Linked DNA regions of Homo sapiens: all the other regions are linked to region 3. Evidence: fine-mapped expression QTL. A gene starts in region 3. Each other region holds a variant in brackets. All regions are shown on one strand. Distances are between the middles of the regions.

Evidence for each region. PIP is the estimated chance that this variant, and not a neighbour inherited with it, causes the effect.
Region 1: its variant is the best candidate, but not a certain one, in a credible set for the expression of JCAD in fibroblasts (GTEx, PIP 0.75).
Region 2: its variant is the best candidate, but not a certain one, in a credible set for the expression of JCAD in aorta (GTEx, PIP 0.77).

The regions. Positions count from the first base shown.
Region 1 is chr10:30,181,386-30,184,054 of GRCh38, forward strand. No RefSeq gene overlaps it. Among named protein-coding and RNA genes, the nearest start is that of JCAD, 120 kb to the left of the region's middle. The variant T/C (reference allele first, on the strand shown) is at 1,070.
Region 2 is chr10:30,687,723-30,690,391 of GRCh38, forward strand. No RefSeq gene overlaps it. Among named protein-coding and RNA genes, the nearest start is that of LINC02644, 34 kb to the right of the region's middle. RefSeq lists an enhancer at 1-318. The variant G/C (reference allele first, on the strand shown) is at 1,555.
Region 3 is chr10:30,058,186-30,060,854 of GRCh38, forward strand. JCAD (junctional cadherin 5 associated) reads right to left here and starts at 1,401. Exons shown (of 4, transcript NM_020848.4): 1 at 1,297-1,401. LOC101929256 (a long non-coding RNA gene) reads left to right here and starts at 653. Exons shown (of 4, transcript XR_001747405.2): 1 at 653-841. RefSeq lists a silencer at 1,344-1,513.

The DNA of each region.
Region 1 (2,669 bases), 120 kb after region 3:
GCTGGGTGTGGTGGCGGGCACGGTGGTGGACGCCTGTAGTCCCAGCTACTCAGGAGGCTGAGGCAGGAAAATGGCGTGAACCTGGGAGGCAGAGCTTGCAGTAAGCCGAGATTGCGCCACTGCACTCCAGCCTGGGCGACAGAGCAAGACTTCGTCTCAAAAAAATAAAAAAAATTACCTGGTGTGGTGACATGCACCTATAGTCCAGCTACTTAGGAGGCTGAGGGATGAGGATCTCTTGAGCTCAAGAGTTGGAGGCTGTAGGGAGCTATGATCAGGCCATCACACTCCAGCCTGGGTGAGAGTGAGATGCCATCTCTTAAAGAAAAAAAAAAGTTATCATGCCAGACTCCCTTGTTTCTTGGGATAAGTTTTCTCCCAAGAGATGCTTCCAATATTCACTAAAAAAAAAAAAAAAAAAAAAAGTTTCCAGGAAGACCTGCCTTATCAGGCCTCCCCACCCCAGGTAAGGGCTAAACCTCCACCCCTCCACTCGGCCCCAAGATGAGACCCCAGTCCAGGTGCATGTAGAGTAATGGGCTTGGGGTCAAGGTGCAGAAGGTTCTGGCACCAGTAGACAGCTGTACTGAAGTTTGGGGTCAGGATTGAGGCTGTGCAGGTTTCTCCACTGCCCAGGAGAGCTGGGTGTCTGCCCCCTCCATCCAGCGCGCCCAGCAGAGCTACAGGGACAGTGGCTTCGGATGAGCAACAGTCACCGAGGAATATGCTGAGCGAGTAGAGTCCAGGTCTGCATTCTGGAAGCTTAGGGTTAAGGGACTTAATAGGGCCAGTGCCTGGGACCTCTATACAACGCAGAATTGTGGAAAGCCTGCTTCCCACAGCAGGCTTCGGTGGTGACGGTTTTTTGTTGGGAAATCAGCAAGCCTCCTCTTTGCCTTTTTTGGAGACAGAGCAATCGGGCTTATGTGCTTGGGAAAGATGTGTTGGAGAATATGCTTTTCATTACATTACACAGAGGCAGACGAAGCTGAGGGTCAGGCCCAGGTCTCTGGAGCTGAGGCTTTAGTACCAATTTCCTCTGGAGGGGCGGCTGCCTGATGCACACTAC[T/C]TTCCCAAGAATTTGACACTGTAAGACTCAGGACACGGGAATGAGAGGCTTGGAGAGTCCCGATGTCATCTCTTCCATTGGCTTTTTTCTTCCCTTCCCTTTTGATCTTCCCGTCCCAGGCCCGCCGTTTGTTTTCCATTATCCAGCTTCCTGCTCTCATGTCCAGAGTCCCAGGGCTCCAGTGTCCTGGCCCCCATCGGTGCCAGGGCTGCCCAGAAGGCAGACAAATCAGAGGCGTCGTAGCCTGGCGTCTCCTCGCATGTCGAGGGCCGCTTTCACCATCTGCTTTCAATGAAGTGTGGGTTTCGGTACATATTATGGAAACAGAAATGGAAAAACCATCGGGGTCCCTCCTGCAAAAACAATCATTATCCACTGAAATGAGCTCTTAGGAACTTCCGGGTGGAGAGCACATCACTATTAATGAAGAAGAATTCAGACAGGAATTCTGGCCGGGCTGGACAGACAGGAGAGGGAAGAAGAAATGGAATGTTCTGACTCACCCGGCAGTTAAGAGGAGAGTCCCTTAATAGAGCAAACAGAACAGTCCTACAGCCGCGGCTGTGGAATCTGCTGCCAGCCTGGTTTCTCTCTGACTCAGAATGTGGCTTTCAGGGCTATGGTGCTGGGGAGGTGGGCTCCATCACCCGAGGAACACCTAGCCCGCGACAGAGGAGATACGAGCACAAAGGCTGGGAATGCCATCTGCACTAGCAGGACCTGGCCAGCCCGGGTCCGCCGGTGCCAGGGAGGGCTAGGCCTCAGAGCCAGACTCACACCAGCCTTCCTGGAGGAATTTGCCATCCTTCACTCTCCCTCGCCCTGTGTACCCCATGTGCTGAGGAGTTGCAGTGTGAAGACAGGAGCCTCAACAAGTCTGCAGTTTAGCGAGCAAGAAAAGGAAGCATCAAAGCTGCATCAAACTTAGTGAGGATGGGGAGAAAGAGGAGTTTCCACAATGCCCTTGGTATTTTCTCCTCCTGAGAGAAGAGCCAGCCAGCGCTGCCCATTCTAGAGAGTGATATATGCATGCATCCTATGTGTGATTGCAGGACTGGGGCATGGTGCATGTGTGTGTGTGTGCGTGTGTGTGTGTGTGTGTATCAAAAGCCCACTTTCCCTCCGGTCGCCCATGCCTGAAATTCTACACGTAAAGGCCATTCTCTTCTTCCCTCTTCAGACACCATCATCTCAAAGAGAATAATACTTTATGCTTTATCAGTAATTGGCATCATTGGGGAAATTCATTCATCAGACTCTCCTCTTCATGGGAGCAAAAAGGGCTGAAAATGAGAATGCCGAGTACTGGTATGGGACCATGCAGGAGAGAGAGATGTGCTGGGCTTCCCAGCTGTGCTCAGGGATCCACACCTGAGTCCCAGCCTCTGTGCGGTGAGGGAGAGCAGATGAGCAGGGAAGAATGTGTCCTCCCTCCTCCCAGAGACCACCAATTTCAAGTCAATGCTTTTCAGGGAACAGCGTCTGTTGATAGGTAGCTGGTTTCCAAATCTGGATTCCTCATAGATGGGTCTGGCTTGGGACCCCCTCATTTCCAAATCCTGCACTTTCCATCAGCTGGCATTTCCATGTGTCTAGGGCT
Region 2 (2,669 bases), 630 kb after region 3:
TGGTGGGATCTTTGTTTTGTCTTAACATTTTGTAATCTGCATCTCCATGCCCTGAGCCATTCATTGCCTAAAGATCCTTATCTCTAGCTGGGAGAAGAGCTCTTTTGGATAGTGCCACTGCCTGAACCGCCAGCAGGGGGAGCCATGGCAGCGGATTTGCCCGGCACCGGCCAAGATAGGGATGGATTTCTCCGGTTGCTTTGGAAACCAGCCTTCAGAGCCAGTCCTGTTTATTAGCTGCGGAGTTAACGGCCTCTTTGCTAATGAACTCCTCTGATGTCTCTTAAGCATCCTTCTAGTGAATGATGATTTCCCTCCCCACCCTGTGATACCAGATTTTATTTATCTTTAAATCTTTCAAGAAAGTTTAATTTCTCATGGATATAAACCCTTTGCAGTTCTGGCAATTGAAACAACTTTTAAAACTTTTAATGACATCATCAATCAAACATATATAAAATGAGAAGTACTTCTAGGATATTACCTAAAACTTGAGTTTTAAACCATTTAATTGTATTTTTATTAAATTTTTTATGCTATAATACTTCTCCCGTTCACAGGAGGAAGGGGCAGAATCATTCATTCATTTGGTTTTCCTTGTGATAGTGATTTGCATATCCTGTCGATGTTGTTCGTCCAGGGTTGCATTGTCATCTAAGTGGCAATGTCATCTAAGGATTTCACATTTATTACAAATGAGTACAGAGAACATTCACATCTCATTTTGGTTTTTTGTAAATGCACTAATTAGTTTTCTTTCCAATGCCTTCCACTTAGGTTAGGGAAGCAATACTCATCCTTCTCTTTACTAAGTTTTCTTCTTCTAGCTGGATACTTTCTCCATGCAGGAATTCCTCCCTTTCCCTTTCATGTGTCTCTCACCACTTTCCCTTTTAAAGATTCCCCACCCTGCTTCTCGGTAAATATACGAGGAAAAGCATTTCCTGTTTCTGCCCACACGGGAGATGGACTGGACCTTCCAAAACTTGTAGTCGGTACAGACCTGCCCTGCTCTGTGGTTTCTTCTGAAAGGTTGACCCTCCTTGGGTTACTGTCTGTGTCATGTCCCCAAGGCCACTGTCCCTCCCTCCCCTCAGCCTGGAGGAGAGCTCCAGTGTGGGGGGCCACTTGCTGGCAAGTGTGACACAGTTCATTCTGCAGATGGCACCAATGCACTCTCAGCTGCCCCCACCATCTCCAAAGGGCCTCAGAACTCACAGCTGCATTTGCTCAAGTCTACGTGTCATGGACATGTTTTCCCACATCTCCACCGTTCATTTTGGATTATCAGCTCGTCAGCCACTACAGTCCTTGGAAATAATAAAATCCTGTCTACATCTGCAGTTGGTTGTCCCACAGTCGTGGTACGTGTGAAATGTGTGTGTGTGTGCCTGCATGTGTGTAAATTCTTATATGTTGTGCCGTCTACCCTGGGACTCCTGGAGATCGGTCAGGGTCCCGGAGATTTCCAGAAGTGACCCTGAGATGCTCAGTAGCTCGTCTGTGTGTTCCACAGGTTTGGCGTCACCTACTGCCATAACCCCAGTAGCCTCA[G/C]CCATTTGCGGTAAAACAAGAGGCACCACACCCGTTTCCAAACCCCTGGAAGGTAAGTCGCCAAGGCCTCGGCCACGCCAAGCCTGATCAGAAGAGGCCTTAGTGATGCTGTCTCACTGACGGTTTCTGCTTGCCTAGATATCGAAGCCAGACCAGATACGCAGTTAGAATGGGACCTGAAGCTGGACAGGCTGGAAACCTTTCTAAGAAGACTGAATAACAAAAACATACCTACCGGAAGCCAGAAGGCTTTGCTCTCAGAATCTCTAAATCCTAATTCTGATTGCTTTTCTTCCTCAGCTAAATTGTTTTCTTTCTATTATGGCTTTCCTAATTCATACTGTAATCACCGCCTTTGTTGTTATCTTCAAAAAATGAAGTTTTGGTCAAGACCGATTAGACTATCAAGCCCTAATTCATTTGATAACATACTAAATTGGGGACTCCCAATATCACATTTGTTCTTGAATCTAAGCCCTTGGGATGCCATCCAATTGGAATTGTGAACTAAGTGATTTTGCTTATAACTCTGAAAGCAGATTATTATACATCAGCAAATCAACATGATCTTGGGCCTGGTGAACTTTAAATTGTATGTTATCAGTTTCCAATAAGGTAAAAGCTGACATTATTTCTTATAATCACAAACGATTTCTAAAGTAAAATTATGGCAAATGAATGTTGAACTAAATATTTCAATATACAAGTCAAAGAAATATGCAAAATAAAAGAGCAATATGCAGAAATTGCCTTTTATCTCTTGATTAAAATGTCCAATCCGGGAAACTTATCAAATACTAGGCACTGGGAGCCCCTACTATTGACAGTGACCACTAAAAGGTTAAAAATAATACAACCACCACTGAACAGAAATATAAAAGTATAATATAATCACTAAACTAGCTAAGCAGGGAATGCCAATCAGCAAAGCATTTATTACAAATGTGGAACAGTGATCTAGCCTGTGGGTTAGCAAGCGATGGCCACTGCCAAATCCAGCTGCCCACCTGCTTTGGTTTTTTGTTGTTGTTTGTTTTTTAGAGACAGTGTCTTGCTCTGTCACCCAGGCTAGACTGCAGTGGTGCCATCATAGCTCACTGCAGCCTTGAACTCCT
Region 3 (2,669 bases):
CTGAAAAGACAAAAGACCGGAGAAGGAAAACAAGTTGTGGGAGAAACATCACATTAAACTGTCAGGACAGGAAACCCTGGGAGTTGTGTGGTCTGCACCGCCCCACCCCTCTCCCCAAGACTAAGACCAAGCTACTAGATTTGGGGAGGGAATGAGGACACGGGAGGCGGGTGGAGTGCGTGCGGGGGTGGGAGAGTGGGTGTAGGTGTGGGGAGGTGATGTGCCCAAGCTAATTCCCCCAAGGCCTCTCTACTCCTTAAGCGCGTGGATGACCAAACACCAGGGCATGCCCAGGTAGCGCTGGCCTAAAGTTCTCGTTTTTATTTTCTTCTTCAGTAGTGAAATCACAGCTTCTTTACAAATGCCCAGAAGAATCCCAGGCGCTCTGCTTCTTGACGGAAGCGAGAGGGGCGCTTTTTAGCAGCTAGTGCTGGGCCCCACTGTGGCCAGGGCATCGAGGCAAACCCTGGCATTTTGGGGGTGAACGGACCCCGACTGGAGACGGGGGAAGTAGAGGGTGCCCGCGGAGATCTGAGCGCAGAGACCCTAGGAGGGCGGGTTCCAGATCCCATAAATGAGATAATTAACGGGATTTACAGCACTCCTAGGCGGGGCTCCTGCCCTTCTCCCATCCCACGCGCAGCCAGGAGCCGGGCGGCCCCGGGCACTCGCTGGGAGGCAGCTGCGATTAGCGCCCTAATCCCCAGCGCAGACCGCGCAGAGACCGGAGCGGGAGCGGGGCCGCGGCGGGAGCCCCCCACCGTCCCGGGCAGTCCAGACGGCCGGGGCAGCGTGGGAACTGGGACCTCGGGGACCCAGCGCGGCGGCTGTCAGCTCTGGGGTGAGGTCCGCGAGATCTGGGCGCGAGGGCGCGGGAGGGGTTGGTGGACACAGGCTGGGGAGGGCGACTTCGAGAGGGGAGTGAGTGACCCCGGCCCCCCAGGCCCTCCGCGCGCCGAGGGGCGACGCGAGCGCTAACGCCAGCCGCGGCCCGCGGTGCCCGCCCCGGGACCCCCGCGCTCCGAGCGGGGCACCTGAGGGGAGGGGACGCCCCTCCCGGGCTGGCAGGCGCCCTCCACCCCGAGGCTGCCGGGCTAGGCACCGCGCGGGGGGCCCAGGCGGGGCTGCGACTGGGGGTGCAGACATCCCCCACCGCCAGGGTGGCTGGAACCGGAGCGACGTCCCAGCTGGAGAAGTTGGGGGGAGTGCGGGAGGCTGCGGGTGAGGCCCGCGAAGCGCCGTGGGAGCGGCCCTAATGGACGGTGGGAGCCAGGAGGGTTAGACGCCGGGACTTACCGAGCGGCTCCCTCATGCCGCCTCGCGCCGCCACCGCCGCCGCTCCGGCCGGCCGGGGACCAGCGCGACCCGCCCCGCCTGCAGCCGCCGAGGCCGAGCATGCCCGGAGAACCGCCGTCCGCCCCGCCCACCGCCCGGGCCCGCCCCGCCCACCGCCCGGGGCTGCCTCCTCTGCGCTGAGGGCGGTATCCAGGCCACGAGCTTCCTAGGCTTTTGGGGTCCGCCTGCGTGGGTCGCGCAGAAGGCACAAGTGAGCTGACCACCATTCCCTCTTTTCTTGTCACTTGGGTTTGGGCCACGTCAACCCTGTGGAAATGTCCAAAGACACACACACTCTCACAGATACACAGAAAGCAAACATATTCATATCACACAAACACACAAAGATGTATGCAAACACACTCATATACACCCACACACAGATGCACACAAACACACTCACAGGAAACAGGCGCACACAAACACATATACAGGACACACAGGTGCACACACAGTCACAGACAAGTGCACACACACTCAAATACAGTCACACGCAGGTGCACACAAACACACCCATATACAGTCACGCACAGATGCAGCCAAACACACTGACACATATACATACATACATGGGAACACAGTATGGCTATACACACACACACACACACACACAAACGCACCCACATAACACATCGATATTATGAAGAGCAGAAAACAGTGATGGTGACAACAGCTTGGGATTTACTTCTTTCAAAAAAAAGTCTGAAGGAGTCTGGAAGCCACCTTCAGATCAGCTGGCCCATACTCTCCTGTGGCAGAGGAGGAAACTGATGACAGGAGCAGGATTTGCCTACAGGGCAGGGGTAGGAGGAGAGATAGGAGGAGGTCAGTGGGAGAGTTCAGACCAGAATGAACATTTGGGGTCATTTGGGTAACCCCAAACCCACTCCATATTTCTCTTACAGCGGGAAGGGGCAGAAAGATTAGACTGCTGCCTGGGTCTGCTCAGGGCGAACGTTTTCATAATTTTGGAAGGCAGACAGAAGACAAAAAATGTGAAATATTGCTGATGCATTGGGGAGAGACAGGGAATGTTAGTTAAGTCCACCCAGACAAAACATGGATGGCACAGCAGACTGGTGACCTTGCCAAATTAGTTTTCAGAAAACTACTTAGCCACATCATGATTTTAGGACTGTATTTGCTGTCGAAACACCAATAACTAACTTTTTTTGCTCTATTACCACATCTGAGCCCTTCCTATGTATTATTTCTTTTAATCCTCATCACAGTTTGATGATATGGGCACCACTTTACAGATGAGGAGTGGGCTCAGGGACGGGCACAGATGGCAAGCTGCAGAATCTAGCCCAAGACCCTCGCTCTGAACCACC